Regions from separate parts of the Homo sapiens genome. Here region 2 is reported to be linked to region 1. The links are microRNA targets in miRTarBase. Many come from high-throughput screens and were not tested one by one. Region 1 holds a microRNA gene; the other region holds the end of a gene's coding sequence. Distances are from middle to middle.

What was found. Region 1 holds the annotated microRNA hsa-miR-4733-5p (AAUCCCAAUGCUAGACCCGGUG, at 1,145-1,166, opposite strand). A microRNA usually pairs through its seed, bases 2 to 8, with sites in the 3' UTR of a target mRNA and lowers its output. Matches are read on the target gene's strand: a 7mer-m8 pairs with bases 2 to 8, a 7mer-A1 pairs with bases 2 to 7 and ends in A, and an 8mer does both.
Region 2: miRTarBase lists HSF5 as a target of hsa-miR-4733-5p. Seed matches in the 3' UTR shown: 7mer-m8 at 2,778-2,784 and 7mer-A1 at 1,748-1,754.

Annotation. Positions count from the first base shown.
Region 1 is chr17:31,093,251-31,096,547 of GRCh38, forward strand. MIR4733 (microRNA 4733) reads right to left here and starts at 1,175; the gene lies at 1,100-1,175. It overlaps NF1 (neurofibromin 1), which reads left to right and starts at 1,727. Exons shown (of 58, transcript NM_001042492.3): 1 at 1,727-2,119. The coding sequence starts at 2,060. It overlaps MIR4733HG (MIR4733 host gene), which reads right to left and starts at 2,240. Exons shown (of 4, transcript NR_186435.1): 1 at 1,977-2,240; 2 at 123-241. RefSeq lists a promoter at 1,307-1,732, cis regulatory regions at 1,340-1,579, 1,806-2,116, an enhancer at 1,720-1,737 and silencers at 1,972-2,041, 2,082-2,131.
Region 2 is chr17:58,419,503-58,422,799 of GRCh38, forward strand. It overlaps HSF5 (heat shock transcription factor 5), which reads right to left. Exons shown (of 6, transcript NM_001080439.3): 6 at 665-2,928. The coding sequence ends at 2,858. Among named protein-coding and RNA genes, the nearest start is that of RNF43, 3.6 kb to the left of the region's middle.

The DNA of each region.
Region 1 (3,297 bases):
GCCAAGGCAGGGGGATCACTTGAGGCCAGGAGTTCCAGACCAGCCTGGGCAACATAGCAAGACTGTGTCTCTACCAAAAAAAAAAAAAAAAAAAAAATTAGCCAAAGCAGGGTGACACTCACCTGTAGTCCCAGCTATTCAGGAGCTTGAGGTGGGAGGATCACTTCGGCCCAGGAGTCTGAGGCTGGAGTGAGCTATGATTGAGCCACTGCACTCCACTGCACAGAGTCAGACCTTGTCTCTGAAAAACAAAAACATTTGCCTAGGTAAAATGTATCGAGGAAGACAAATTTTAAAATTACTCATTCCAGGCCAGGTGCGGTGGCTCACACCTGTAATCCCAGTACTTTGGGAGGCTGAGGTGGGCGGATCATGAGGTCAGGAGTTCAAGACCAGCCTGGCCAATATGGTGAAACACCGTCTCTACTAAAAATACAAAAATTAGCCGGCTGTGGTGGCGCATGCCTGTAGTCCCAGCTACTCGGGAGGCTGAGGCAGAAGAATCACTTCAACCGGGAGGCGGAGGTTGCAGTGAGCCGAGATCGCGCCTCTGCACTCCAGCCTGGGTGACAGGGTGAGACTCTGTCTTAAAAAAAAAAAAAAAAAATTAGTCATTCCAAAGTCCAATGTCAGACATAGATTATCCGTTGTTTTGGATGTAATCCTCTTCCTGGAAAACTGGCACAACCCAATTACACATGAAATCCTTTCAACTCTGGTATTGGAGGTATAGGGAAGGACTTTGTTTTAGGAGACCCATAGTCTACCTCTATTGTTCTAGGAGTTAAACCACGTTGGTTTACATCCTGACTTTGCCACCTGTCAACTCAGACCTTGGGCAAATCAAAGGTCTGAGGGAGGAGTGCAGGCTCCCAGCGTTCCCACGGGGGTGGGGACGTGACGTATTCATCAGTTCATGAAGTTAATGATATGTATTGAAAAGGTTTGTTCAAGGATTTAAATAAGACGATGAATATATTGAATTAATAATGAATGCAAGGCCTTAAAGGTGTTTTGAGGGTGGTGAAACTTGAATCTCTCATCAACTGTGCAATAGTTATATTAACTTGGATGGCTATGAGTTTTGCAGAGGAAAGCTGGGCTTAAATCCCAATGCTAGACCTGGTGGCTAGACCTTGATTGCCACCGGGTCTAGCATTGGGATTTAAGCGACCTCTAAAAAAAAAAAATCACGGAATCTCTCTTTGGCCTTCCTTTTTTGTTTCTCAGCAGTCTACCAAGCTACGAAGAACCTGAAAATCGGAGGTCGTGTACCTTATTTTTTCTGAGAGCTTAAGCTGAGAGCACAGCCTCCCCAGGAGATTAGCGGCAGAGATCCGCGCGCTGGGAGAAAGGCTAGCCCCAGGGCGCCCTAACTTCCAACTCCGGGAGCAATCCAAACCCGGAGGCCGGCGGGGGAGGGGACAGCTGTAGGGGGCGGTGGGGATGGGAGTGGATGCTCCCGGGTCAGCTCTGGCACTCGCCAGCTGAGCCCAGCGCCAGTCTAGGTGAGCCCCACGGCGGTGAGGGACGCTCGCCAGACGGCCCAGAGGAGTTAGATGACGTCACCTCCAGGAGGACTCGCTTTTTCATTAATGAAACCGGCCGGCGCGGGCGCATGCGCGGCAGGCCGCCTTCCCTCTCGCTTCCCCCTCCCCTTTCCCAGCCGCGCTCTCAATCTCTAGCTCGCTCGCGCTCCCTCTCCCCGGGCCGTGGAAAGGATCCCACTTCCGGTGGGGTGTCATGGCGGCGTCTCGGACTGTGATGGCTGTGGGGAGACGGCGCTAGTGGGGAGAGCGACCAAGAGGCCCCCTCCCCTCCCCGGGTCCCCTTCCCCTATCCCCCTCCCCCCAGCCTCCTTGCCAACGCCCCCTTTCCCTCTCCCCCTCCCGCTCGGCGCTGACCCCCCATCCCCACCCCCGTGGGAACACTGGGAGCCTGCACTCCACAGACCCTCTCCTTGCCTCTTCCCTCACCTCAGCCTCCGCTCCCCGCCCTCTTCCCGGCCCAGGGCGCCGGCCCACCCTTCCCTCCGCCGCCCCCCGGCCGCGGGGAGGACATGGCCGCGCACAGGCCGGTGGAATGGGTCCAGGCCGTGGTCAGCCGCTTCGACGAGCAGGTAACCGGCCCGTGGCGGGCGGGAGGTGGGAGCGGAGTGGGGGTGGGGACAGAGTAGGTGAGGGGAGGTAGGAGCGGCCGCCTCCCCCGCGGCTGCCTCAGGCTCTGGAGGAAAGGAAGGGAAGGGAAGAGAAGGGAAGGGGGGATAAGTGGGGGTGGCCAAGGCGGGAGGTGAGGGGTAGGAGGGGACAGCTGGGAGCTTGGGCACCCTTTCCCTCCTAAGTCGGGGGGTGGGGCCTTGTCCCTGACCAGCCTCCGACCCTCCATCCCCTTTATCCCAGCCCTTCCGCTTGGAAATGGGGATGAGTGACCTGGGGGCGCCTTTAGGGGCGCGCCATCTGGATTTAATAATTACCCCCTTACTTTTGTTTTTGAGCAGAGGTGGGTAACGTTTAGGGGTTCTCTCTTCCTCTTCCCTCCGTGACCCTCCTAACTGGGGACGAGCGAACCCTAAGGCCTGTCTTATATACCCTCAATAGGAGAACGATAACATTCCGCCCCTCCCCCAGTTTCTTCAGCTTCCTCTCCTGGAGGGGGAAGAGCAGAAGAAAGCAAGGAAGGCACAGGTTTTCTTACTTTCTGCTCCATCGTCTCATCCTGCCCCGAGAGCTTCAAGTGCACACTCACTGCACATCTTTGTGATGCCCTACAACGTCGTCCCCCATATCCTGATGACACAGACTGCCTTTTTTTTTTATTGCCGTTTGCAGTGGAAACCGTGGTTCTGAAATATCTTCCCCTTCCTTGATAATTGCAGTCTCTTCCCCCCCCCCTTTTTTTTTTGCCAGCGGTCTGAGGATGTGATGCATTCTCGAGTGAGAATGTTGGGGAGTAAAGGGGAGAAGGGTGAAAGGAAAGTGAGAAACTGCTTCAGAGCCACCGACAACAGAGCAAAGCCAGCTGGGATGTGGTCCTGGAGCGGATCATTCTGCTAGTGTTTGTGGTTGTTTTTGACTCTCTCCTGGTTGACAAGAGAACTTTCATTGAGAATATTTGGGATGAAAAAAAAGTTTTGTAGCTTGAGGAGGTGACTTTTTATCGCCTGAGTTTCACACAATAAATCCTGGGGCTGATTAGAATAAATGCACACATAGCCTTTTGTCAGTGGAAATTGGTTTAACTTTGTGTTGCTGTAGGTAGTTGGGGATGGTTTAAGGGATGCTTTCTGCAGCTGTGGGT
Region 2 (3,297 bases), 27 Mb from region 1:
AAAACGTGCAAAGGAATGAAAAGACCTAGCCCTAGTAATTAATACACACACTTAATTGACAGAAAGAAGACAGTTACAAATGTGGTTGCCCTCTCTTGAGGAAACTCTGAGATTTGGAAATGATGATGATATGCATCATGAACCTGGAGACTTGGAGAAACTCAAGATCAAACCAAACAGCTCTATGTAGCTTAGTTCACTGTTTTAGATCACCAGAATTGCAAGAGCAATTATTCTTCAGCTTCAAAGTTTTGGAGTTACCCTCTAGGGTTGATATACTACTACATTTTCCTAGAGATGTCATAAAGATGCCATCACTATTGTAATGAAATGCCTAAGTCTCAATGACATCTACTAGCTAGTCTTATACATGAGATAGATCATCCTTCAGGATCTACTTTCACCTCTGGATTGATTAAATTTATCAAAGATCATTCATCCTTTTCCAAAAATGTAGGTTTCTGTAAAACATGTCTAAGAATTGTCCTTATCCCTAACGGCATTTAAAAAATTCCATTGCTATTCAAGTACAAATGAAAAAAAACTTTTAAAATTCAGATTATTTGAAAAATAAAGTAAATCTCATTTGAATTATACTATTAACTGTCATAATTATTGAATTTTCTATTAATCACCAAACAGTAAGAACAAGCAAGACAACAAGTCTAGTTGGAACACTCACTTTATTGTTGACTGATTGAAATTTATCAGTGCTTAAGGTGCTGAAATACTGAGGTACTAGTCAGGAACCTTGTTAGTTGACTAGTTGTGTCAGACCCTACTGGCTAATTCACAGGAAGACTTTATTATACCTCTTGCCATTTTGCCCAAGTCATTAATGACAGCTTTAGTTGATAGATACAAGGCGTGTAAGGATAGCAGGAGATCCAGCTCCTTGGTCTGCTGTATTCATATATAAAAATGTTTGGAAAGCTGATTAAGGCATTTCATTAATTAAGCCTTAAAACAACTGAAACCAAATCTATGCCAAGGTTCCTGCTTGACATGTGTTCCTCAAAAGATATTATCTCAACATCTATAAAGCTAAGAAAGCCATATTTAGGGGAAAATCTACACAGTATATTAGCTCTTCAACATGACAGAGAAAAAGCAAAGTTCCTTCATTTGGAAATTGGGTCTCCTCTTCACATACTCTGACAAAATATTATATAGTCTGGCCAAAAGATATAGGTGTCTTGATAATTTGCTCTTTTAAACCTTGCTAATAAAGATAAATAAATGCCCATCACATAGACATTAACTAGTCTAATCAGAGGGACCACACAGGTCGCTTTTCAGAACCTACTTTAATATCTAAACAGAGTCACTGCAGATCAATACAGAGCTCACCCTTTTCCAGAAAAGTAGATCTCTGTAATATTTCTAGGGTTTGACATCATTGGGAAGGCACAATGCAGTATAAGAAATGAACTGTTACATCCACAACGGCTAGCATAGTACTATGTCATATCACCAAGTGCCTTTTTAATTAGTTTCATATTCCTAGGCTTTCCTTTCGTTTCTGCAGTGCTTAATAGGAGAACTGAAACAGAATCCAATAAGAAAGTTTTGGTCAATTGAAAGACTTTAAATCAGAAAGTTTCTTGCTGTCACTGGATAAGCAAGTAAGGGATTAACCACAGAAACTGGACATCCAAGACATCCTTCTCTCCTAAAACACAGTCCCACAATCCTACTGCACAAATCTAGAATCCTGTAACAGGGATAAGAAAAAAATGTTACCATCTATCCCATTATCCAAAATTCTCTCAGAAGCTTAAACCAGATTGAAACCATTCTTTAAAAATCAGAGGCATAGCTTCTACTAAATGGCTGCTAATCAGTTTTTTCCCAAATTTGCACACAATACCTTATATAGATGAGAATTTATACTTATTGAATGTAAAAATCTAAAATAAGAAAATAGTATATTAAATCTCTTAATGTTTTTGTTCACACATTGTACATTTTCCTTTCAAAATAAAAATACTACACATGCATCCTTTATCCTTCTATCCTGCAATAATAAAAATATAAAACTTTAAAACCTTTAAATCTATCAGCATTTATAAATACAATTATATTAAACAAGTTAAATACTTTCTTTAAAGACATTTAAATAAGTGATATATTAATAAAATCTTTTTACCATTTATGATAATGTATCATTAAAATTAAAGAAAGATATGAAAATAGAAGAATGCTTCCATTAATATAAAAGAATCAGGGGCTGTTAAGTGTGATAGATGGTCCAAGTCCGGATGCCTTGCTCTTAAAACAGAATGCTGGGTTAGGAAGTAAGAGAATTTCCTGGTTAATCACTTAGAAAATTAGCTCTTCTCCAGAGTTTCTTCCCTGGAATTCCTGATGCATTTAGACCTGTGATGCTGGTGACCTCACATGCCTTTGTTTCTCACACAATCTCCTCTAAAAGGATCACACTGTGACTTGAATCAGAGAGACTGAATTCCCCACTAAAGTTGTGCTGACTACAGTTTGAGTGGCAAGACAACAAATCAGCACACACACAGATTATTCTTAGTACCATAGATGGAGCAGTTTTTAGATGCTCCTTGACTATAACAGAAGGTCAGAACTTTTCATTTAAAAGGGATCTGGGCAGCCAAAAAACGTGGCTGCTAGATGTTCAGTAGTTTGTCAAGGCAGATAATCTGAACTGAACCACTGTAGTACATACAAATTCCCAATTCTCAATTAACAAAATTCTCAATTAACGAAACAAAAAATACTTTTTTTTCCTTAACAGAACTGAAAAAATCCCAACAGTTTGTCATGTGCAAGGCTAGTCTGCCTCCAGCTACAGCTAGTGCACAATGTCACATTTGTCATCCATTCCTCACTCTTTTAATTCTTCCTCCTTTGGAAAGCGCTCCTGCTTGCAGGCCACGTCCACCAGCAGATGAAGATCTAGAAAGAAAGGATAGTTTACTCCCTCTTAGCCTCTCTGTAGAGTTCTATAGACAAGTTTTCAGACAAGCAGAACAAGTTGTCTATGTCTCACCTGTAGAACTGGCTCTAAAATTGTATAGTCCCATCAGATTCTCAATTTCGGGATATTCCTGTAACTCTAAAGCACACTGATGCAGCCCAGTTGTAACCCAAAGAGACCAACAAATTTTAGTGTCCCTCCTTTTCAGTAGTATAGCCAAGACTCTTTTCACCTCAGTTGCCTTTTTTTTTTTTTTTTTTGAGACGGAGTTTTGCTCTTATCGTCCAGGCTGGAGTACGGCGGCACAATCTCGGCTCGCTGCAACCTCTGCCTCCTGGGTTCAACTG